4 linked regions of the Homo sapiens genome follow. The protein of the gene in region 4 purifies or fractionates together with the protein of the main gene of each other region. This does not show direct contact. Each region holds a gene or a part of one and is shown on either strand. Other genes may lie near its edges.

Region 1 (7,036 bases), on a different chromosome or scaffold from region 4:
ACTGCATGCAGAGCCAAGCTCACAGGCTAAGGTCACAGAAGGCAGAACTCGGCTGGGTGCGGTGGCTCACACCTGTAATCCCAGCACTTTGGGAGGCCGAGGTGGGCAGATCATGAGGTCAGGAGTTCGAGACCAGCCTGGCCAACATGGTGAAACCCCGTCTCTACTAAAAATACAAAAAATAAGCTGGGTGTGGTGGCATGTGCCTGTAATCGCAGGTACTCGGGAGGCTGAGGCAGGAGAATCTCTTGAACCTTGGAGGCAGAGGTTGCAGTGAGCCGAGATTGCGCCATTGCACTCCAGCCTGGGCAACAGGGCAAGACTCCATCTCAAAAAAAAAAGAAGCCGGGCGCAGTGGCTCACGCCTGTAATCCCAGCACTTTGGGCGGCCAAGGTGGGTGGATCATGAGGTCAGGAGATCGAGACCATCCTCGCTAACACAGTGAAACCCCGTCTCTACTAAAAAAATACAAAAATTAGCCAGGTGTGGTGGTGCTCGCTTGTAGTCCCAGCTACTTGGGCTGCTGAGGCAAGAGAATCGCTTGAACCCAGTAGGTGGAGGCTGCAGTGAGCCGAGACTGCACCACTGCATTGCATCCTGGGCGGCACAGCAAGACTCCGTCTCAAAAAAAAAAACAAACCAAAAAAAAAACAGAAGGCAGAACTCAGTCTCCTCTCCCATCCCTGACCACAGGCTCTCCCTTGGGCCAGGTGCAGGCTGGGGCTACGAGCCTCTAGGACTAGGAAGAAAGGGCCAGTGTGCCCAGCTGTCCCCTGGAATGAGGTCTGGGGTGGTGGAACCAGGGCATCCGCAGGTGAGGAGATTTCCTGGGACATGCCATGTGCCCATCATCCTATTGGCCAGGGTGGGTAAACAAGGCTGGAGATATGGATCCCAATGGGCGGCCCCCACCTTCCTTGCAGAGTCCAAAGTCTGCGATCTTCAGGAATCCCTGGGCATCCAGCAGAAGGTTATCCAACTTCAGGTCCCTGAGGGCAAGGGTGCAGATCAAAGGGACTGAGTGGGGCTTAGACCCAGGGAACAGTAACGGCCCCTGGAGCAGCCCAGGCAGGCGGAGGCAGCATCTGTCCTTACCCACTCCACCCCCACCCCCACCCCTACCCCCGTGCATCCCTGGGACAAAAGTCACCTGTAAATGATCTTCTTCTCGTGTAAGAACTGCAGCCCCAGGACAACACAAGCCACGTAGAAGCTGCAGGGGTGGTTATGGGAGAACTCAGGCCCAAGACACACACCAGGGAGGCAGGGCAGGGAGGCACCAGGATGGCCATAGCGGGGGGATCCCGGATGTCCCGGCCAGAGTCAGAGATGAGTGAGACTGGGACAAGCATCATGCTGAGGGTGGGGGTGCTCCAATAGTCCCAAGGTCGCCCCAAGGTTGCGTGCATTTCCAGCTCACCCTTCATGGGCCCTTAAATGGTGCCAGGGACCAAGTGTTGGTCCCTGCAGTGGATATTCATCATGCCTATTTTTTTTTTTTTTGAGACGGAGTCTCACTCTGTCACCCAGGCTGCAGTGCAGCGGTGCGATCTCGGCTCACTGCAACCTCCACCTCCTGGGTTCAAGCAATTCTCCTGCCTCAGCCTCCCAAGTAGCTGAGACTACAGGCACGCGCCACCACGCCCAGCTAATTTTTTTTTTTTTTTTTTTTTTTTAGTTTTTATAGAGATAGGGTTTCACCATGTTGGCCAGGATGGTCTTGATCTCTTGACCTCATGATCCACACGCCTCAGCCTCCCAAAGTGTGGGGATTACAGGCATGAACCAACGTGCCCGGCCTTTTTTTTTTTTTTTTTAGATGGAGTCTCACTCTGTCGCCAGACCGAAGTGGCGGGATCTCGGCTCACTCCAACCTCCGCCTCCTGGGTTCAAGCGATTCTCCTGCCTTAGCCTCTCAAGTAGCTAGGATTACAGGCGTGTGCCACCATGCCTAGCTAATTTTTGTATTTTTAGTAGAGACAAGATTTTACCATGTTGGCCAGGTCACGAACTCCTGACCTCAGGTGATCCACCCGCCTCAGCCTCCAAAGTGCTGGGATTACAGGTGCCCGGCCAATCATGCCTATTTTTCAAATAAAGATCTGAGACTCACCAGGTGTGGTGGCTCACGCCTGTAATCTCAGCACTTTGGAAGGCCGAGGTGGGCGGATCACTTGAGGTCAGGAGTTAGAGACCAACCTGACCAACATGGAGAAACCTCGTCTCTACTAAAAATACAAAATTAGACAGGAGTGGTGGTGCATGCCTGTAATCCCAGCTACTCAGGAGGCTGAGGCAGGAGAATGGCTTGAACCAGGGAGGCGGAGGTTGTGGTGAGCCGAGATCATGCCATTGCACTCCAGCCTGGGCAATAAGAGCCAGACTCTGTCTCACAAAAAAAAAAAAAAAAAAAAAAAAAAGAAACCTAATGCACAGCTTCATAAGCTGATACCCAGGATCACAAATGCTGTCAGTTGGTGCCAGGATGTAAACCAAGGCCTCTGACTCCTGCTCCCCTGCTGTTGGGCACTTGGAGAAAGCAGTATGTAGAGAGTGGGTGTAGGGAACCAGGCAAAGTTTGCTGGAAGAGGCAGGCAGGAGGGATGGAACCCACCGGGCCTGGGGCTCGGGGAAGACATCCTCGTGGATCTGCATCATGAGGTCACCACCAGGCACAAACTCAGTCACAAAGCAGGCATGGCTGGAGGTCTGGAAGCAGGCAAGGAGGGAGAGCAGGAAAGGGTGCCCTGTGCAGCCCACAGCCTCCAGGATCCGCTTCTCGCAGTACAGGCTACAGGAGAGAGCAAGAGTATTAGAGGGAAGGAAAACTTTCCCTGGGCTGTGCCCTGTGCCCTGCACAACACCCCTGGCTCACTGGGCCCTCAGCCAAAGTGCCAGGCAAGTAGACTGATGGTTTCTTTTCATTTTTTTTTTTTTTTTGAGACACAGTCTTGCTCTGTCGCCTGGGCTGGAGTGCTGTGGTGTGATCTCAGCTCATTGCAACCTCTGCCTCCCGGGTTCAAGAGATTTTTGTGCCTCAGCCTCCCGAGTAGCTGGGATTATAGGAGTGCGCCACCACGCCCAGCTAATTTTTGTATTTTTAGTAGACGCAGGGTTTCGCTGTGTTGCCCAGGCTGGTCTCGAACTCTTGGCCTCAAGTTATCCACCTGCTTCGGCCTTCCAGAATGCTGGGATTACAAGTGTGAGCCAGTGCGCCCAGCCTTTTTTTTTTTTTTTTTTGAGACAGGGTCTCACTTTCTTGCCCAGGCTGGAGTGATGTGGTGCGATCTCGGCTCACTGCAGCCTCCGCCACTGAGGTTCAAGTGATCCTCCCACCACAGCTTCACGAGTAGCTGGGTGTGCACCACCACGCCCAGCTAATTTTTGTATTTTTTGTAGAGGCGGGTTTCACCATGTTGTCCAGGCTGGCCTCGAACTCCTGGGCTCAAGCAATCCTCCCACCTTGGCCTCCTGAAGTGCTGGGATTACAGGCATGAGCCACTGTGCCCAGCCTCCCCCTCCTTTTTTTTTTTTTAATTAGTTTTTTTAGATGAGGTCTCATTCTGTTGCCCAGGCTGGAGATCTCTGCTAACTATAACCTCTACCTCCTGGGCTTAAGCAATCCTCTCACCTCACCCTCCCAAGTAGCTGGGACTAAAGGCACATGCCACCATGTCTGGCTATTTTTTATAGATGGGGTTTCACCATGTGATTCAGATTGGTCTTGAACTCCTGGACTCAAGTGATCCGCCTGCCTTGGCCTCCCAAAGTGCTGGGGTTACATGCATGAGTTACCACGCCTGGCCATAGAGTGATGGTTTCTATATGTCAGGGGCTCACAAGGAGCTCTGAACGTGCACAGCCACCAATGCCCCCATTTTACAGTAGAGCAAACTGACAGAGAGAAGAGGGGACCTGCCCAAGGAAACACAGTTAACAACTGCAGGTGCCAAAAGAGAATGCAGGCTGGCTGGCCCCACGGGGTCACCTCTCCAAAGCCCCAGGAACCTTCAACTGCCCTCTGGATGCCACAGCCCAGGCCAGCCATCCTGGGTGCCCTGCGGCACCCCCACACACCTCTCTATCTCGTCCCGGCTGAGCACCTCCTGCTTCTTCAGTGCTTTGATGGCGTAGTATTTCCCTGTCCCCTTGAACTGGACCAGGAGGACCTGGGGCCAGAGAGAGGTTGTGCTCCAGGTGGGCCAGACCAGGGAGCCTTTACCGCCCCCACAGATCAGGTCCTCCCGGCTCATGTGATGAGGCCCCCAATCCCGTCCCATACCACCCTCTTCAGCCCACTACCTTCCCAAAGTGTCCCCGGCCCAGCACAGCTAAGCAGCGGAAGTCCTGAAGCCGAGGGGGTTTCCTGCAAAGGAAGAGAGGGTATATGAAGTCCCCTAGGGCACTGGCTGGGCCCCTACCCAGAGCCACTCCAAGCCTCCCATGCCCAGTCCTGGGCTGTCCCGACCTATGGGCTCGAAAAAGCCCTGCAGTAAGGACTCCTAGAAGCCGGCATAGAGCTGGAGCTCAATAATGTGGGTTTAGTAAATCAGACCCCGAGAGCCAGTCAGCGCACCCGCCAGGGAGCCAGGGAGTAATGTATGAATGGATACACAAATGTTCAAGCAAGCAGACGAACGTCTCAAACATGAAGGTGCGCAGGATGGGGTACCTGGTGGGGGAGGCTGGTGGAGATGGCCCACGTCGAGTCCTAGGCTCCATATGGGGACGTTTGGTGCGCTGTGAGTATAGAGGAGCTCAGGGCAGGGCTGGGCTTCCTTCTCTCTTTCCCTTCAGGCCTGCCACCCCACAGCTGGGTGGCCCTGCCAGCCCCAGCCGGCCCTAGGAGCCACTAGTCCCTCCAGCCCCTCACCGGAGTCTCCTCGGATGTTGGCTCCTGGGGGAGGTAGAGGCGTGGGGGCTTGGGTGGGGGTGTCATCTCTTCACCCAAGGGGGTCTTCTTGGGCAGGAAATTACTGTAGGGAGAAAGTAGACACAGTGCCCAGCACAGGCAGACGCAAGAGCTGGCAGGATGGACACACCAACCCAAAGTGAGATGGACAGAGGGTTAGCGGGCTGAGCAATGCAGACAGACAGACAGATACCGCCTGGATCTGGAGTCAGGAAGCCGCCACAGAGGAGCATGCAGTCTAGGGCAAGGGAGCTCCTCACCTGGGAGTGGCAGGGTCAGAGGCCTCTCGCAGTGTTGTTGGGGTCCGAGGGCATCCTTTAGGGGGGCTGATTGTGCTCGGGGAGCTGCAGGGGGGCAGCAGGTTCATGACGAGGCGCCCCCAGGCCGCCATGCCGAGGTTCATCTGCGAAGCCCTCAGGAAGTCCTGGCCTGGGAGAAAAGGGGGAGCTTAGTCCCGGGACCCCAGCCCTGCTCCCTCACACATAGCCCCCATTCCCTCCACACCTCTGCGTTTAGAGAAGATGCGTTCCTGCCTCTGCAGCCGGGGCCGCCTCTCAATGACAGGATCGCAGAAGGTCACCTGCAGGGGTAGGGGCAGGGTTGTGGACCAGTCGCCTCCCATCTCATCTGCCATGGCACCTCCTCTGCCCCTGGGATTACAGCCCAAGCCCCCAGGGTCAACAGATGCAAGAGCCAGAAAGACCCAGAGAAACAGATTCAATGTCCTCATTGATACTAGTGGAGAAACAGAGGCCCAGGGAGGAGAGGCACTTTTCCAGGGTCACACCTGAGGCAGGGCAGTCAGGACAAGGACCCAGGCCTCCAGATGCAGCCCTGAGAGAGCGGCTAGGAGCCCTTATTCCTGGAGCCCTCCTCTCTGGTCGTCAGTCTCTGCACCTACACGCAGTGCATCGGTCTTGAAGGCCTTCCTGGCCCTGACGCCCCAGGGTCCCACCAAGTCAGAGGGCGGAGGTGGTGAGCACCTGGGCAAAAAGCAGTCCCTGCGGTACCAGGCTGAGGGACAGTTGGTGACAGGCATTGTCCAGGAAGTCCTCAAGTCTCAGGAAGGCCACGCCACATAGCTGCCGCCAGTCCCGCCAGTGTACCCCAATCTCCAGCTCACGGGCCTGTATTGGGGAGGCCAGGCTGAAGGGTGGGGTGCAGAACGAGCCCCGACCTGGGCAGCCTTCCACCCCGCAGCCCAAGGTCACCCCTGACCACACAAAGGCCAGCCTTACTCGCTCCAGTGGGATGACAAAGGTCTGGTCCCAGGACTGTTCGGCCACCTGCCCCCAGCCCGTCTGCCCCACAACACGGTTGTCCACCTTTAGCACAGCCAGCACCTCGCCTGCAGGGCCAGAGCCGGGACTCAGGGCAGGCCTGAAGCAGGGGTCTCCTGCTCCCCCTGAAGCTCCTTCCCTACTCACTGGCAAGCTCGCCTCGGCCACGCTGGTGCTTGGCCTTGGTCCGAAGCCAGCCCTCGGAGGGGCTGCTGGCCAGTGCGGCCGCTGGGGAGCGCCCAGGCACGGCTGTCAGCAACTGTTCACAGCCCAGGAGGCGGACCTGCAGTGTCCCTGTGGGGAGAGTGAGCGGGGGGCGTTGTCAGATGCCATCTTCCCACTGCTACCACCAAGGTGTCCTGGGACCCCAGGAAGGCCACCCTCTCCAGGAGGTGGCTGAACCCAGACCGTACCCACCTGAGGCCAGGGCAGTTACCTGAGGAACCTCACTCAGTGTGGCGGCCTAGAGTGCCTAGACTGGAGCCTGCTGACTGTCCTGCAGCTCCCAAGCACCATGAGCCCCCCAAAGGGTACCCTTGGACCCCGATGACACCCTAGGAGGCCTCCGACCTGGACACTCCCAGGTGAGGAGCCACGTTGTCCCAGAATGCACACTTCTCTGTGGCAGCCACCTCTTTCCAGGGCAGAGCAACTGGCTCTCCCCTCCACATGCTGGAGCGGCAGGGACATAGGCTCAGACCTCAGACCTTAGCCAGGCTGCACAGAGCCACAGCACATGACGAGATGCTGCCTAGAAGTGGGGCCTAGAGAGCACTGTGGCAAGGATAAGAGCTTGGGACAGGGAGCAGGAAGCCTGGCTTCCTGTCCGGACCCACCTGCTCC
Region 2 (3,429 bases), on a different chromosome or scaffold from region 4:
CAGGCCTGGCACAGTGGCTCACACCTGTAATCCTAGCACTTTGGGAGGCTGAGGTGGGCAGATCACTTGAGGTTAGGAGTATGAGACCAGCCTGGCCAACATGGTGAAACCCCATCTTTACTAAAAATACAAAAATTGGCTGGGCATGGTGGCGGGTGCCTGTAATGCCAGCTATTCAGAGGCTGAGGCAGGAGAATCACTTGAACCCGGGAGGCGGAGGTTGCAGTGGGCAGAGAACACACCACTGCACTCCAGCCTGGGAGACAGAGCGAGACTCCATTTCAAAAAAAAAAAAAAAAGAAAAGAAAAGAAAAGAAAAGCTGTAAGATCAGCTAATTATACTGCTTACCATTTGGTTAATTTCACATTTCATTCAATGTAGGTTAACTTACTGGATGTTTTTCTCTTAAAAAAAAAATCAGAAATATCTGATAACCCCAATATTCCATCCATTCTTTCTAAACGCAAGCTAGTGTGACTGTCTCCAAGAAACATCTGGCTGCTGAGACAAAAGCAGATACTTGTAAATACTTGTAAATTTCATATTTATTGTAACAAAAATTATGACATGTCCATTTGTGCATTCTGCTTGAGTATAACTCTGGGTATGTAAATGGCCTAATGGGGCACTATACAACCATGCTGATTGTGGCAGCAGTAAGGAACACAGTTAAAAGTGTCTGTCAAAGTGGGAAGGCTGGGACAGGGGAGGAAAATGGGTTCAGGGCCCTTGGGTGCAGGTTCTTGTCCAGTGGCCTAAGATCCATTTCCTCCGGACAGAAACACTGCAGCTGCTCAGCCTCCTCATTCAGTGAAGTGAGGGTGAGTTGTGAGGCAGGCAGGCTCCTCAGAGGGGAGGGGGAGGGGAAACGTCAGTTACTTGGGCTGTGTCCTTACGCCAAGACTACAAAACATCGTAAGCCTCACTATACAACACTGAGCTATTTACAATGGAAATTCTCAATCAGCTGTTCTCTCAGAGAAAATTAGTGAATCCCAGTGACTTAAGTCACCTGACAGAGTAAAGCAACTCCTAGGAGTTAGTCTCCATATTCTACAAATGTCTATTATTTTCAAGACAAAAACAAAACAAAACAAAACAAAACAAAACAAAAGCCTTTTCCCCCCAAAGAAATACAGAATTACAATATTATTAAATCATTTAGCAACGGCAGCCTGCCCTGCCTTCCAAACAAACAACAAAAAGCCATTTTAAAAAATATTACATTATCATTAACTGTTTCTCTGTAATATATTAAACCTTTTGTTCTTTGTCTTTACATATCTGATATGTTAGGGGGAGAAGTTAACAAATGTAAATCATATTGGTAAAGCATCACTAGAAGAAAGTGGTGATTACTTAAAAAAATAACCCAAAGAAAGAGAACCTACAGATTAGCTGCGATGACAGGTTGGGAACAGTGTCTGGGGGAAGGATGTGGAGTAAAACCCCTGGTTTAATGTGAGCCTGGGAGACTCTTGCAACTCAGTCTTTTGTGGTTAGTTTATTTGTTAAACAGCTCGGCTGGGTCATAGTGGCGTGTCGTAATAATCTGGCAGCTGGTCCAGCTGGTAGTGCCGCGGCAGCTGCGGCTGGAGCTGAGGGGGTGGTGGCGGCTGCTGCTGCTGCTGTTGCTCCTGGTGATGCTTCATGATTTCTTTGACCTCCTCTTCCAGCTCCGGGGGTATGATAAACTGATCATCAGGATCCGGCTGAGCCGGGGCAGCAAAATAGCCTCCAGGCTTTCGAAGAGGTGCGTCTGTAGCCACCTCTATCACATTGTGGCTCCTTTCCTGGGGCGCAACAGAGCCATTGGCCCTCCGGCGCCCAATGGTCCCAACGGCAGAGAAGTCTGCCTTCCTGGGCAGACCTGGCTCATCCTCGTTGGCGCTGATGACAATGCCCTCATCACTGGCCTCTGCTGGCACCTGAAGCAGGTGCTGCTGTTTCTCCTTCTCCTTGGCCCGGCTGCAGTGGATGTCCACCTCCACCTCCACCCGGCTGCCGTTGGTGAAGACGCCCTCGATGGGCTCCTCATCGTCACTGTCAAGGCCGTTGTCGGAGAAGGCGCTAGAGAACGTGGCGCTGGATAGCTGGCGCTGGAAGGAGTTGGACAGACAGATGGGGTGGAGCATGCAGCGCTGCTCACTGGGGTAGGCAGGGCTGTTCTCGCTTAGGGCTCCGGGCGGGGGCTCATCGGAGGCTGTTGACCCCACCTCGCTGCTCATCTCAGAAGTGGAGAGCTCACTGCTAATCTCGGAAGCCATGCCGCTGCTGGAGGACGGCACGCCCAGCCCATCTGAGGGCCGATCCTTGATCACCATGTTCACTGAGGGAGGAAAGATGCCAGGACTGGGTGGTGGCACAGCCCCACCGGCGCTGAGCTCGCAGCAGCAGAAGCTGTCCTCAGTGACACTGAGCTGCACCACCACAGCGCTGATGCTGTCGTGGCAGCCGTAGCTCTGGGCCAGGGTACACAGCTTCTTGGCAGCAGCCAGGGCATCGGGCACGTTGCGCACGGCTTCCACGGCCTCCTCGACGGACAGGCTGTCCCACAACCCCTTACTGCCTAGGATGAAGAACTCATCCTGGGGAGTCAGGAGCACGGACTGCACGTGGGGGCGAGGCACCACACTGGGATGGAGGAAGGTGTAGCCCAGGATGCGCGTGGACTCAGTCACTCCGTTCACCTTGCCATCCTGGAAGAACAAGGGTTTGCAGACAGACAGTTAATACAGAGCACCTGCGGCAACTGTGCAGGTTCCCTGCGGGTCCCTCGACTGTCTCGACTGTAGGACCACAGAGAAGTGCTGTGTGGCCCACAGAGGAAAGAAGGGCTCACTCTGTAGTGAGTAGTTAATGTGCACCTGTCATCAGAAACCCCAGGTAGTAGGCCTGGGCAGGTAAGGAGCAGTAGGGACAAAAGGAAAAGATTTCGGTTATGTGTGTTACTGGGACCCCATTCACACTAGGTCACAAGTCCTGCTGTTTATCTAAAGCAAGCCATCATCTAGCCTTACACAGCAAGCATAGCTGGCTAGCTCCTCCTGTAAACATGGGTTTACATCTTCCCTCCCTTGGTGAACATGGTGATCAAGGATCGGCCCTCAGACGGGCTGGGTGTAGGAAGACTCTGAGGTAGCAAGAGACTTTCTGATAGAAGCCAGTCCTGAGCAAAGACACATGACGCAGGCATATATCAAGACAATGCTCCTAAATCTTCCATTGCTCTCCATGATCACAAGAGGCAGTAGTGTCTAAAGGTCCAGAGAGGACTTGAAAGTACTTAAGCGGTGGAGAAAACCTTGGTTTGACTAGGTGGGTAAGAATGCTCATGTCAGGAGAACAGATGCTAAAGAAGAAATGCCAATTCTTACAACTTCCTTGAACTTGATTTCCTGTTGACCAATGGAGAAGGCAAGATCTGC
Region 3 (6,890 bases), on a different chromosome or scaffold from region 4:
TCATAAATGATGTTCATATTAATCTAAAGGCAAGAATTTCTTGGAACTAGTGAGGTAGTTTCATGGAAATCGGATGGTAAAGGACAAATGAAGTTAATGGAGTCATTTAAAAAATAACTAAACTTAAAAAGTATTAAATTACTCAATCATGAACATTTTAGTCTTTAAAAATTTTTTAAACAGTTTTCACAGAAACTATTTTAAAGTCCTATTAAAGGTAAAAACCTCCAAAATAACCACAGACACAATTATTTTATAACACTTGTGGACCCATGGCAAAACGGAAAAGGGGCAGAAGATGAAGAAAGAACCAGGCTTCCTCCTGATTTATTACTTCCTGGATATTTGACTTCGGGCAAACCATTTACCTCTGAAGACCTGAGCTACCAGTCATTACCAGTTTATTAATTCTGAATCCTCATAATGAGAATAATGGCGAATAACAACTAACTTGCTGTGCTGTTGTGAAAATAATTAATTTTTTTTTTGAGACAAAGTCTCACTCTGTCACCCAGGCTGGAGTGCAGTGGAGCCATCTCTGCTCACTGCAACCTACACCTCTCGGGTTCAGAAGCGATTCTCCTGCCTCAGCCTCCCAAGTAGCTGGAATTGCAGGCGCCCGCCACCATGCCTGGCTAATTTTTCTATTTTTAGTAGAGGCAGGGTTTCACCATGTTGGCCAGGCTGGTCTGAAAACTCCTGACCTCAAATGATCCACCCACCTAGGCCTTCCAAAATGCTGGGATTACAGGCATGAGCCATGGCACCCAACAGAGAATAAAATTTATTTATTTATTTATTTATTTATTTATTTATTTATTTATTTATTTATTTTTGAGACAGAGTCTTGCTCTGTCTCAAGACAGAACCAGGCTGGAGTGCAGTGGAGAATAAAATATTTTTTTAAAAAAGATCTTAGCAAATTGTAAACTGTGATACAGGTAAGATATTACCTTTAAAAAAGGTAGGAATTCTAAGAATCCATTTGTATTCTAACACTATACTCTATCCTCACTTTGAATTTTTGTTGTTGTTGTTGTTTATTTTTTATAGAGATGGGGATCTCGCTATGTTGCCCAGGTGGGTCTCGAACTTCCAGCCTCAAGCTATTCTCCTGCCTAGACCTCCCAAAATGCTGGGATGGGATTACAGGCCTGCCATCTCGTTGACCTCTCGCTTTGATTTTTTTCTAGCCTTAATACTGTTTGTTTATAAAACACCTCACTTTCACAGAACAAGTGCATTTTGAAGGCTTTAGGCTCTTTTAAAAACCCAGGTACACAAGGTAGCTTACACAAGGTAAGGGACAGAAAAAGGCAAGCTAGCTATTTTACAGACTAAATTCTAAGTAACATATACCCAAATTGCCAATGTAGCTAGGCAAATGCAGACCCGTTTGTGATCTGGTTTCAGCTTCACGTTGTTTGGTTAAACGTCAATGCATCCATCAGGTAACATTATAACGGGAGCAGACGTTGGTTAAAGCTTAAACAATCAGACAAACTGCTCCCCTTGGGATTCTCTGATTTATTTACTCTAGAATATGCCTGAATGTAGCCTCTAGCTAGAACTTGAGTGACCGATTCTATCCAAAATTCTTTAAACTGTAAAGGACACATTAGTGTACCACTAACAGTACATTTAAAATCTAACAATTCCAAAAAAAACTAAGCAGTGTTAAAGAAACTTCCATTTTCTGTGGTTTTTAAGTTGTCATGTGTGAAGCGATAAACCAACCGGGTGCACAACATCTCATTTAATCCATCCTCACAACCAGCAGGGAGGTGTACCATCGCCTTTTTACAAACAAGTCTGTCTCACCTCTAGCTGAGAGTCTTACAAGTCTCTTGCTATTTCCATCACATTTGTCTAACTCCATTCAACACGCCAGAAAAACTCACTTTATTAATAAATATCCAGGCCTGCACAGCATACCTAAATTTAACCTTCAACATCATTTCAACTGCCCTGTTTCGCCTGAGGTTATCAGTCCGCTTAATAGCGAAAAGAGGTTTTTCGTTTTGGTTTTCTTATGTATTAGAAGTAAATCAAGAAAGAGAAACTAAACTGTAAGAGGGCAGGAACAGACTTTCAACTGCTTTTGCCCCCTGTGGCTAACTTCATAATAACAACATTTAATAGAAAAAGGTTTTGAAACGTGCCCCAGTGGCAACTGGATATTCTGGCTGTCCATCTCTCTCCTGTCATCCACTTTGCAAATTCACCACTCCGGGAACTTTCCTGAGAGTTCAAGGTTCTTAATTCAAAAGTCAAGTCCAAACTTGAGCAAGGACTTACGTCATTTTACAGCGTTAACCTCTCCCCAGTGTCGGTTTCTAGAAGTTTTGACTCACTTTGCGGGGAGGTCTAAAGAATCGGTTTAATGACAACCACTGGCCTTAGGAGAGGGAGCTCCCGGAGAAAGAGCGAGCAAGCTAGGTGCCCGCGGTGCGGCTGCGGCTGGCGCCGGTCCGAGCTCGGGAGCTGCTGCCCAGCGAGCGGGGAAAGCCCGTCCACCTCGGCCAGCGCGCGCGGGAGACAGGACCGAGCCGGGCGACAGGGGCAGCCGCCCGGAGGGGCGCGGGGAGTGGGGCAGGGCCGGGTCGCACCTGAAACCGCGGGGCGGCTCCGGTCCAGCTCGGCGGACGAACTCCGGGAGACCCCCACGTCCCCGGGCGGGAGGGGCAGCTCCTCGTCGCCGGCCTCGCCCTCCTCCCCGGCAGCGTCCAGCAGCCTCACGGCGCTGCCTGGGGCGCCTCTCCGCGGGTGGGCCCAGGCGATCCGCGGTAGCAGCGGCTCCCGCTCCCCATCCTCCTCCTCCTCCGGGCTCCCGCCGTCCGCGGACGCCAACCGGTCGGGCTCGGAGGGATCCTCCATGGACTCCCTCTGCTCCCTCCGCGCTGAGACCAGATCAGAGCAGCCAGGTGCCAGAGACTGGGCTCTGCATGGCGCGGAACGGGAGCGACCGGGTAGAACGGACGCCACCTCACCAGCGCACGGGCACGCTTGGCGCCCGCCCAGCGGTTGTCCCGCCTCGCCGCCGGCCGCGCCCCACCTCGCGCCTCCGCCAGGCACCACCCCCGCGCCTGCGCAGAAGGGTCGTGGCGGCGGCGGCGGCGGCAGCGGGGCACGTGGGAGTGAACAGGGGGCGGGGCTTTTGAGGGGTCAGGTGGGGTGGGGCCGCCACCTGCTTCCGTGAGCGCGGGGAGAAGCTGGGCACAGCTCGCTTTACTCCCAGTGGAGGGCGGGAAGGTGAGTAATTTTCAAAGAGGTGCCCTCCTGCAACCAAAAGCGGCTTCTCCCTGACAGAATTCTCTCTCAGAGTTTACCATAATCTGTAACTATAGATTTAATTGTATGACATTTCTTTCCTCCAGTAGACGTCCAGGAGGGCAGGGACCTTGTCTTTGTTCAGATATTCTTGATAGTGGCAGTTTGTATGTTTTCTTTTTCTGACTAATCTAGCTAGAAGTTTATCAATTTTTAAATCTTTTCAAAATGTCATGTTTTGGTTCCATTGATTTTCTGTTTTCTGGTCCATTGCCTTATTTTGCTCTTTATTGCTCACTTGAGTTTTGATTTCCTCTTCTTTTTCTAGTTGCTTAGAGTAGAAGATGATTGATTCTGGATCTTTCTGCTTTTCCAATGCTAGTATTTTAAGGCTATAAATTGCCCTCTAAGCACTGCTTTAGCTGAATTCTCCTTTTTTTTTTTCTTGGTGGTTGTTATTTTTGAGACAGGGTCTCACTTTGTTATCCAGGCTGGAGTGCAGTGACACAATCATAGCTCACTGCAGTCTCAACCTCCTAAGCTCAAGGGATCTTCTCAGCTTTAAACTGTAGAAGACACAGTAGCTGGAACTGCAGGTGTGCACGACCACATCCTGTTAATTTTTAAATTTAAATTTTTTGTAGAGATGGGATCTCACTGTTGCCCAGATTGGTCTTGAGCTCCTGGTCTCAAGCAGTCGTCCTGCTTCAGCATCCCAAAATTCTGGGATTACAAGCATAAGCCACCTTGCCTGGCCTGCTACTGTGCTTTTGTTTTCCTTCAGCTGAAAATAGTTTTTAATTTCCTTTATGATTTCCTCTTTGACCCTGTAAAGGAAAATAAAAATCTCAGAACCACCCCCCACCCCCAACTTGTTATGTCAAAGGGAGAGTTAAGCCTGGAGACTGAAGTCACTCAACACTACAATGCTTTTCCCAAATGGATAGCTGTTACTTCCCATAGTTGTATTAAAACTTTATATGTTAGCCAGACCCTCCTCAAAATGCAAAAAAAAGCCTTATGCATCTCAGTCTCAGGATGACTGTCCTCAACAAATTAATCATAGTAAATTCTTTACTGGCCCTTAAACCTTTCAAGATGTATATCCTTCCATAAAACAAGGACGTGTCAATTGTATAACTTTAAGTCTGCAACCTAAATCAAACTGGTACAACTAAAGTCTGTTAAATTTCACATGGATAAATTCAGTTACAAGCTTATCTTCCCAGATGCAGAACAAGGATAAGATCAATCATTCCTTCACCTGAGATATCTGTATAATTAACTTCCTTTACTCCATTTTCTTTGAATATTCACCTTATCTTATGCATAGCATAGAGTTACTGGGCACTACCTAAAGTCTAGCAAAAATGTAACCATTTGCTTCACCACCTACAACCCTCTTCCCTGATGCCTTCTCCGCTTTAAAGAAAGAATAGCTGTAATTACAGGTGCCTGCCACCATGCACGGCTAATTTTTGTATTTTTTAGTAGAGATAGGGTTTCACCACATTGGCCAGGCTGGTCTCGAACTCCTGACCTCAGATGATCCACCCGCCTCGGCCTCCCAAAGTGCTGGGATTACAGGTGTGAGGTACTGCACCTGGCCTGTAAATGCCTTTTAATTGGAGTTTGGGGTCCATTTACATTTAATGTAATAATGATGTGGTTGGATTTAGATCTATTATTTTGCAATTTGGGTTTTATTTGCTTTAACCTTTTCGGTTCCTCTGTTCCTCCTTTCCTGCCTTCGTTTGGATTAATTCAATAATTCTGATTATTTCATTTTCATTCCACCATTGACTTTCTGTTATACTTATTTTTTTTCTTTTTTTGAGATGGAGTTTCACTCTTGCTGCCCAGGTAGGAGTGCAGTGGTGCAATCTTGGCTCACTGCAACCTCTGTCTCCTGGGTTCAAGCTATTCTCCTGCCTCAGCCTTCTGAGTAACTGGGACTACAGGCACATGCCACCATGCCCAGCTAATTTTTGTATTTTTAGTAGAGACGAGGTTTCACCATGTTGGCCAAGATGTTCTTGATCTCCTGACCTTGTGATCCACCCACCTGAGCCTCCCAAAGTGCTAGGATTACAGGCATGAGCCACCACGCCTGGCCTCTGTTATACTTCTTTACATTAATTTTTAGTGCTTACACTAGGGTTTTCAATACTCATCCTTAAATTATCTCAGTGTACTAAGAGCCAATATTGTACTATTTGACATAAGAGGTAAGAACTTAGTGTCATTCCATTTATGCCCCATCGTTTATGTTATTGCTGTCATGTATACTAGACCTAAATATTTAAATACAGTGAATAATTTTTGCCTTAATTGCTTTTTTAGAGAAATTACCCACATAGTTACAACTTCCGGTGTTCTTCCTTCCTTTTTGTAGATCAGAGTTTCTATCTAGTATCATTTCCCTTTCCTCTGAAGAATTAAAAACAAATTTTATAATGCAGATTTGCTGATTAATATGGCTTGGCTGTGTCTCCACCAAATCTCATCTTCAATTCCCACGTGTTGTGGGAGGTGGGAGGTGGGAGGTGATTGAGTCATGGGGGCAGATCTTTCCAATACTGTTTTCATGATGGTAAGTGAGTCTCATGAGATCTGATGGTTTGAAAAACAGGAGTTTCCCTGCCCAAGCTCTCCTTGCCCGCTCCCATCCACGTTAGATGTGACTTTCTCCTCTTTGCCTTCCCCCATAATTGCAAGGCCTCCCCAGCCATGTGAAATTGTAAGTCCAGTAAACCTCTTTCTTTTGTAAATTGCCCAGTCTCAGGTATGTCCTCATCTGCAGCATGAAAACAGACTAATACACTGGTGATAAATTTAAGTTTTAATTTATTAGAAATTGTCTTTATTTTACCATCATTTTCAAATGCTATGTCCTCTGGATACAGACTTCTGGGTTGATATTGCTATCCTTACCCATCTAAGTTCAACTGTAAATATGTCATTCTATTGTCCTCTTGCCTTCATTGTTTTTGAATCATAACCCTTCACTTACACACCCGACTTGTGCTATGTCATTTTCTCTAGCTGCCTTTAAGATTTTCTCTGGTTCTTTGGTTCTTTGATTTTCAATAGTTTGACCATGATGTTTTTGGTATGATTTTCTTTACAAATATCTTGCTTAGGTTTTGCTTTACTTCTTGAATCTGTAGATTTATGTTTTCCACAAAATTTGGAGAAATGTCATTCTTTTTTTTTTTAGAAGCAGTTTATTACCTTAAAGCATTTAGCAAACCTAATGTCTGACCTAATTTCAACCAAATGTCTTTATTTTACCAATAATCTTCAAAACTCTTGATTTCCCAAAGCCTACTAAAGTCATGCTGTCACAGGCCATTAGACAGCATGAGCAGGGCAGGAAAGGGCTCTTCTCCCACCCACCAGGAATGTTGGGTGATGGCTCAGCAGTTATCACATTGCCTCTCTAAAAGTCATACATTGGCACCTAGGGTCAGGGAGACGCCATTTCCTGATGGTCCACACCTATTGCACTAAAGTGTTAATTGAATGCAGATGCCAGGGAGATGCAACTTCCCAGGCAAATGCATTAAGAGACAAAACGGCAGAGTATGACCTTTCCGTGGCACTCCATGGGAAAAGGG
Region 4 (7,036 bases):
ACAGAAAGGAGAGGTTGGGGTGATGGAAAGAATTACATATGTACTGTGGCTGGTTACCATGGCAACCCTCCACAGAAATATGATATAGATATATATAATATATATTGTAGATATATATTATACATATATGTACACATGTATACCACGCACCCACTCACACATACACACACGCACTTTGGACCAACATCATTTCCAGGTTCAGGAAATAGAGGATCATAATTTCTGTGACAACTCATTTTTGCAGGTACTCACTGGAGGTCTGAGAACCTTAAAATGCTGTCGCTACATTTTTTTTCCCTTCCAATTCAGAAAGCAAAGTGTTACCATAGTAACAGGACTATGTTAAAGATGTCTATTTTGCATAGCACATAAAAAGTAGGTTTCCTGTTTACTCTTCTTGTTTCCCAGAAGGGAGGGGGTGCGGGGGAGGACAGGAGGAGGGAGCCACAGCTAAATCGTCACCTGAAGCCCCCAGTGTGACCTGCTGGATTCTAGAGAACACTTCAGCCCATAAGGCAAGGGAAAACCCAACGCAGAAATAAACGCCGGAACATCTTGTCATTGTTAAATATATGATGCAGTCACATCGGCTTCCTGCTCTGTGGGGCTCGTACTTCCTAGTCTACGGTTCCGTGAGATGCCTTCGGAGGACTTGGTTATTTTTGCATTTGCTCTCATTATTGTTCTTTTTGGAATGATGTTGTTTTTCCCAGAAGTAGCTGTCCAATTTGTTTTTTTAAGCGCTGAGCATTGGGACCACTTAATTGCCACAAATGAATTTCACATCTTCTGGTGTGTACTGTGTGCAACCTTAAAATATATATTAGTAAAAATCTTTCATTTTATATCCCTTGTGTTCTATATACCTATTATAAATACGTCCTATCTTCCTTCTCCCCCTGGACATCATAATTTACTTCCGTCTTAAGGACTCTAAGAGGTCTGCCGTATGTGCTTCACCTTGACACAGAGCACCGGGCGCTGCAGCCTCCATCAGTACCGACCCTGCAGCCCTGGCACCCGGACAGCACCGCATAAACCAAAGTGTCGTAAGGCTCAATCGGGAGGGGAAGGAGGAACCTGGGGGGAGGGGGATCTGACCTACCTTTTATAGATAAGGATTCTTTAATAACAACGATGATGATGGAATTACAGCCTGTTTGACCTTTGGCTTTTCAACTTTTAGGTCAGATTTGGCTCTCTGCTATTCTCCTAAATGCTTTCCCTGTGTTTAATAAAATGTGATAAGTATAGCAGCTGAGTCTGCTTAAAAAATCATCCAAAGCAGACCGACTCTCCTACAGCTCGGAGCTGTGTATCTTATTGCCAGTACCACAACAGTCCTGCCCGAATATATCATCAGCGGCCTACTTTCTCCCTTCCCTCCAAGCCTGTTCCTTTCCCAACAATACCCGTCTTTGTTCCCCGGAATGAAGAGGGGCTTTTCTTCCTGCACATCGCTATTTGATAACAGCGAGTGCCTCCCCATGCACTGGAATCCACTGTGTGTGCTGTCGTGTCTCCTACTGGCCTCTTCGATCTCAGCAAAACCAAAGTGCTGTGCTACCTAATTGCTTTTTTCTTTTTTCCTTTCCAACTTTCTGTTTCAGAGGCAGCAGCAGTGAGCTGCAATTGCAGCCAGCCCTTTCCCCAGCCCCACTCCCTTCTATGAACTCCTAGCCTTCTTCGCAGACAGCCTAGCATCTGGCTAAAGGGCACCTTGTTAGCAAACACAATTTCTATGAACGGATTACCCATGGACTGAAGCTGTTGTTGCCAGCGGCTGGAGGAGGGGACTCCAGACATGAGTGTTCCATGAGTGATGCAGATGTGGAGTGGAGGTCTCAGGTGAGGTGCTGCAGAGCCCTGGGTAACAGAACGAGTGAGACAGTAAGGACTAAACTCTAGAGATCTTTGCACACCTTAACTAGCCCGAGGTCCGTGTGACAAGTCCGGTATGCACTGCGGGGGAAATGCACCCCAGGCAGAAGCCGGCCCTTCCAGGCGTGGCATCCTGGGGCACCTGCCAGGATGCTCACAGCCCTCTCGTCCACAAACCACTGTCTTCCCTTGGCTTCTGCAGAGGCCTGAGTGACCGCAGCACATGGCTTCGAGGAGGAGACGTGGGACGCGGCACAGCAGTCCGAATGGGCGTCTTCTGCACAGTCTTCCAGCTTCCAGGGAGCGTGTGTGTTCACCAAGGCCGAATGCTACAAGACTAGGTAAGCTGTCCAGCGCGACGGGCTCTTCCGAGGAGGAGTGTCCCTCTCCCCCGGTGCTGTGCTTCAGTCAATTCTCCAGCACGCGGGCTCTCAAACCCTCAAGGGAGGCATCGGGACATTAGGTGTCCTCTGGGAAAGCACAGGTACCACCAGGGTCCCTCTCAGACCTTGTAGTAAATGTTCGCCGGGCTCTGCGGGGGCATCTCCTGGACGATGTACACCGGGTGCCCGTAGTCCCCGCTGACCTTCTCGTAGTGAGGGCAGAAGACGCTGTCCGCAGTCCTTAGCGGGATGATAATGTCACTGGGCTCTGAGCCGTTGTTGTTGCCGCTGCGCTTGGGTGTGGCCAGTGTGCTGAGCGACAGCGTGGTCGTGTGCTGCGGCGAGTGCTTCCTGTGTCTCCTCCGGTACTTCAGCAAGAGGACCACCAGCGTGATGATGATGACGATGAAGATGATGCATCCTGAAGCAATCCCTGCAAATAAGGCCACTTCGGAACCGAGGATGTTGTTCCCCGAATGTCCGGCGCTGTTGCCGTCTGTGCTAGAACCTGCAGACGCGGAGACAGAAAAGGTCAGAGATAGTTACTGCTGTCCCAGTGCAGACGGACTGCTTTTATGACCCTTAAAAATGTGAAAAATAAGCCAGGCTTATTACTAACTAGAAGCTGGACTTTGCCTCGCCAATACCTCGTCTAAGAGCTCAACGCAAAAGGAAATGAGAGGTATCTCTAGGAGGGACTTCCCTACCCTCCCAAGCCACAGGGTTTCCTTTGTATCATTATCCAGCAAGAGCACAGACTGTCGGTGACAGCCAGCCCTTGATCTTGCTTCATCTTCTAACCCGTGTCAGCCAGCCTGGGGCAGCGGCAGGGAAGAAAAAGGGAAGTGGCCAATTCTCCAGGTCAGCGGTGAGCGTTTATGTGGTATTGCTCTTCCGCCTCCTTTGAGAAAGGGAGTTTCATGCAAACCTTCAAAGGGCCTGCCTTCTAAAGAAGAGCCCTGCCTCCTGGCAGAACAGAACAGCTCGGGAACGCGGAAGGAGTGAGGGGGCCTGGGAAAATGTTCAGCTCGTAACTCGTCTGTATTATTTGATTTACACTTAAAATATATTTGGAAGGCAGCAGAAACTCTCACACCGAACAGACTGCCAGCCCAAATGTTAAGCACTAAAAAACTGCCTGGCATCATTATATTATCCATTTATCAGTTTGTCACAAGAATTTGACACATCTTGTCATTGAAAGTTAGAAATAACAACTTCCCTCCTTGACTCTTGGAAAGGGATGGAATATTGCTGCAGACGATAAATTTGCACAACGACCAAGCAAGCACACAACAATCCTAATACAAAACTGCTGATGTCTGCTCAACAGCTACTCTATAAAACCTTCATTAGCATGGTAACAAATACAGAACTATTTGTTCCAAGACTGTTAAGAAAACGAAGGTCAACGACGGACAATTTTATCTGGTATTCTACACTTTTGTCAGGGACCTGTTTAATATTTTCTTTTACATGGAAAATGTGAAACAAAATAACGATAACCACCTGAAAAAATACTATTATGCAATATTTAAAAATGTTACCATTTAAAATTTAGAAGAGGATCAATTAAACCCTCTGTGGCTTAGATATAATTAGATGAGGGATTAGCACATTAATTACATATACATTAACATCAGCTTTAAGCTGGAGTTGACAACCAGCTTGATAAAATGTCAGCCAATGAAACCTTTGGCCTGACAGAGTAGTTCTAATAACTGGCACTTACAGCTCATGAACTCTACTCCTTTGAATATATGACTTTCATTGGAATGAGTTATTTTGTTCTTATTGAGTGTAATTAATAATGACTCACTGACAGCAAAGATTCCTGATCACTGTAACTTCCAGCTAATCCTAACTGGTTAGAAGTCTTTAGACTCTGCCCTACCTTTTAAGATACTACTAAGAATGTGGTACCCACAGACCTCCATACACACAGATCATGCTGTTATACCTGGATTTGGTTTTACAAAGGGACTTGTTGTCGAACTTCTTCCATTTGTACCAGCTTCTAGTTCTGGACGTCTTGTTGGATCTTTATTCCTGGTTGATCCAGCAGAACTTGCATCTATATGAAAAACAAATGATTAATTACGGCACAGACATCTGACAATATCTAGCTTTAGGAGCTGCATATATATTTCAACAGGCATGAATAGCAATGAACATAAGAGTCTTTATGCAAAGTACTGTGAAATACAAGAATATAATTTTTCTTTTAAAACAAAATGGTTATACTAGTTATTTCAGAGGTTTAGAACGTGAGGCCATCTGTGGAAACTATAGGGATTCTTGCATTTGGCAGGCAAAGCATTGCAGATGACATTTCAATTTAACTGAGCAAGTTGATTGACTACTATACCAATTTTTAATTAGAAGAATAATTATTTCTTTCTGCACAATAGGTTATCTATATTGGAAAAGTCACAATGAACAAAACTCTTCTGTAGTCAAGATTCAGAAATGAGCAAAACTGCACAAGCTTTTAGTTTTCATTCTGGATATTTTGATTTTGAACCAAAGTGTTTTGCTTTTTAAAAAGAAATATCTATCTATCTATCTATCTATCTATTATCTATCTATCTATCTATCTATCTATGGCAATAGACATTCTACCTTGCTGATCTTAACTCTTAGATCTCCAATAAAAGCTTAGTACATTGACTTGAGGAAATCTGTCAGTGGCTCAAAGTGCAGAAGGGTTTGCTTTGAAAACTAAAAAGAAGAGCGAATGAAGGTGGGCATCGGCAACATTAGCACCATACTAGCTGGGGGCTACACCAGGTCACAGTGGCGTCATGAAGCAGCAGATGGTCTTTACCTTGTCCAACTTTCATGAGGATCTTCATGGCTCTTGTCTGGCACACCCCTCCCTCCTGGTTATCCAGGCCCTCCAAAGACCCATTTGATGTAGCTGATTAAAAATAAAATGGACAAAACAAAAAAATAAAGAAAAATCAGGAAATCAATAAGCCAAGTTTACATGAACATGAAATGTCTGAAAACAATTTGAAAAATAAGAATTCACTCTTAGTCACAAGTTTTCTGAAAGTATGGGGATGCTGAAAGCCAAAAAGAAAAAGAAAAAGAAATAAAGAGAAATGGATATCGGAAACACTGCCGCACGTATGCTATCTGACTCCAAATTTATTTAGGCACTTTCTCCTTCCTTCACAAATGACTGATTTAATGTTAGTCTATAAATAAAAGGGATGGCATCCTTCAAAAAGTCTATGGACTCTTTTGGGGCCAAACTCAGAAGAGCAAAATAGTTAATGCAGCCATTTCCAAACGTGGTAATCATCCCCCCACACCTGCTTCCTCCACTGCAGATTTCCTGCTTCAAGAACAATTAGCTTGACGCTCTGTTTGTCAAGCATCCAAGTTCTGTAAACACTAGACCAGGAGCCTCCCACAACCCTTGTCTTCTTTTTTCAGCCTTATGCATGCTTAAGAAGTATACCAGAAATCAGGTCTTCAAAATCTCCCCTTTTTCCTCCATCGTTTTGTAAATCAGAAGAACATACGTGTTATTACTGCCAATGTCAACCTTAGTCAACCTCTTCAACCAAACTACCTGTTGCGGGAAAACTCTGGCTGAATAGAGGGTTCACACACATGCCCACCACTCATTCTGGGTCCTGTGGCAGCCCTGGAGAGAAAGTGGGGACTTTTACCAGCCACTTGCTGGTGTTCACCAACTGAATTCCCTCTCCACCTCAGCAGTGAGGAGTGGAAGGAAGGACAGAATCATTTTACCATTTTCAGCATTTTTTTTTTCAACAGCCTATGCTCTATTTAAACACATCCTTGTTCTGTCTCTTTAGACCAGCGAGGTCTCTGAATAGCTTTGTAACTCAAGCTGTAAAGAGATAGGCTGCCAGGTACTTTAATGAGAAACAGGCTTTGAATTACAGTTCAAGTTCCAGGAGAGAAAAGAAGGTGGAGAGTGCTAGACATTTTCATTCCCCTAAAGTTCAAGGGGCAAGGAACAAAAGTGTTTCATATACATTTCTGCAATTTAAATCCATTTTCTACCTGATTATCAAAGTCTTGGCTTGTAACACTGTACTTTGCAAGGGACTGAAAAAAGGATTGATTTTCTGGTAAAAATAAATCCCAAAGACATTCTTCTAATGGGATTGTTTGTTTTCCAAACAGTAGGTCAGCAAACAAGTTCTATATGCATTTATGGTAGAAATATGCATTCCACTGAAATTATATTAACTACAAAAATAAGGCACTTATTTACTTGTCTTTGTGGTCTTGAATTAACTTTACTTTCACTGTTTTCCTCAAAACAAAGACTGCCTCTTCTGTGCATACATATCACTGTGCTTCTCTGAGTGCTTGCTTAAACTTTACAGTCTCACAATTGCATCTCATTCTTCTGTAACTGTGGATAAATTTTTCCCGGGAAACTGGGCAATAATTGCCATAATAATACTTGTCTTGGAAGGGTAGTAAGAAGCAGACAGTATCTGTTTGTAGATACAAACATTGTAGACCATTAAGAAACTATTCAGCAGACAGCTTAAAAAAAAAAAAACCTAAAAATTTTGTACACTTCTGTGAATCTAAAAAAAATCTTTTTAATTATTTAATGGGGCTATTAAAATTTTTTTTTATTATACTTTAAGTTCTAGGGTACATGTGCACAACGTGCAGGTTTGTTACATATGTATACGTGTGCCATGTTGGTGGGCTGCGCCTGTTAACTCGTCATTTACATTAGGTATATCTCCTAATGCTATCCCTCCCCCAGT

What was found.
Region 1: the proteins of EFNB2 (region 4) and PKN3 purify together in Homo sapiens (affinity purification with mass spectrometry; 3 studies listed by BioGRID and IntAct, with this or other methods). This does not show direct contact.
Region 2: the proteins of EFNB2 (region 4) and PHLPP1 purify together in Homo sapiens (affinity purification with mass spectrometry; 3 studies listed by BioGRID and IntAct, with this or other methods). This does not show direct contact.
Region 3: the proteins of EFNB2 (region 4) and PI4K2B purify together in Homo sapiens (affinity purification with mass spectrometry; 3 studies listed by BioGRID and IntAct, with this or other methods). This does not show direct contact.

What each region holds. Positions count from the first base shown.
Region 1 is NC_000009.12:128,712,503-128,719,538, reverse strand, and holds part of PKN3 (serine/threonine-protein kinase N3), read right to left. Parts: intron 6,488-7,036; coding exon 6,341-6,487; intron 6,262-6,340; coding exon 6,152-6,261; intron 6,041-6,151; coding exon 5,897-6,040; intron 5,494-5,896; coding exon 5,418-5,493; intron 5,343-5,417; coding exon 5,174-5,342; intron 4,978-5,173; coding exon 4,875-4,977; intron 4,742-4,874; coding exon 4,674-4,741; intron 4,368-4,673; coding exon 4,304-4,367; intron 4,171-4,303; coding exon 4,079-4,170; intron 2,793-4,078; coding exon 2,616-2,792; intron 1,215-2,615; coding exon 1,152-1,214; intron 991-1,151; coding exon 914-990; intron 1-913.
Region 2 is NC_000018.10:62,977,533-62,980,961, reverse strand, and holds the end of PHLPP1 (PH domain leucine-rich repeat-containing protein phosphatase 1), read right to left. Parts: intron 2,701-3,429; coding exon 1,531-2,700; 3' UTR 529-1,530; downstream 1-528. UniProt on the Homo sapiens protein: Protein phosphatase involved in regulation of Akt and PKC signaling.
Region 3 is NC_000004.12:25,230,151-25,237,040, reverse strand, and holds the start of PI4K2B (phosphatidylinositol 4-kinase type 2-beta), read right to left. Parts: upstream 3,009-6,890; 5' UTR 2,878-3,008; coding exon 2,610-2,877; intron 2,478-2,609; exon of another isoform or gene 2,299-2,477; intron 1-2,298. UniProt on the Homo sapiens protein: Together with PI4K2A and the type III PI4Ks (PIK4CA and PIK4CB) it contributes to the overall PI4-kinase activity of the cell. This contribution may be especially significant in plasma membrane, endosomal and Golgi compartments.
Region 4 is NC_000013.11:106,490,657-106,497,692, forward strand, and holds part of EFNB2 (ephrin-B2 isoform 1 precursor), read right to left. Parts: intron 5,185-7,036; coding exon 5,092-5,184; intron 4,339-5,091; coding exon 4,225-4,338; intron 2,773-4,224; coding exon 2,384-2,772; 3' UTR 1-2,383. UniProt on the Homo sapiens protein: Cell surface transmembrane ligand for Eph receptors, a family of receptor tyrosine kinases which are crucial for migration, repulsion and adhesion during neuronal, vascular and epithelial development.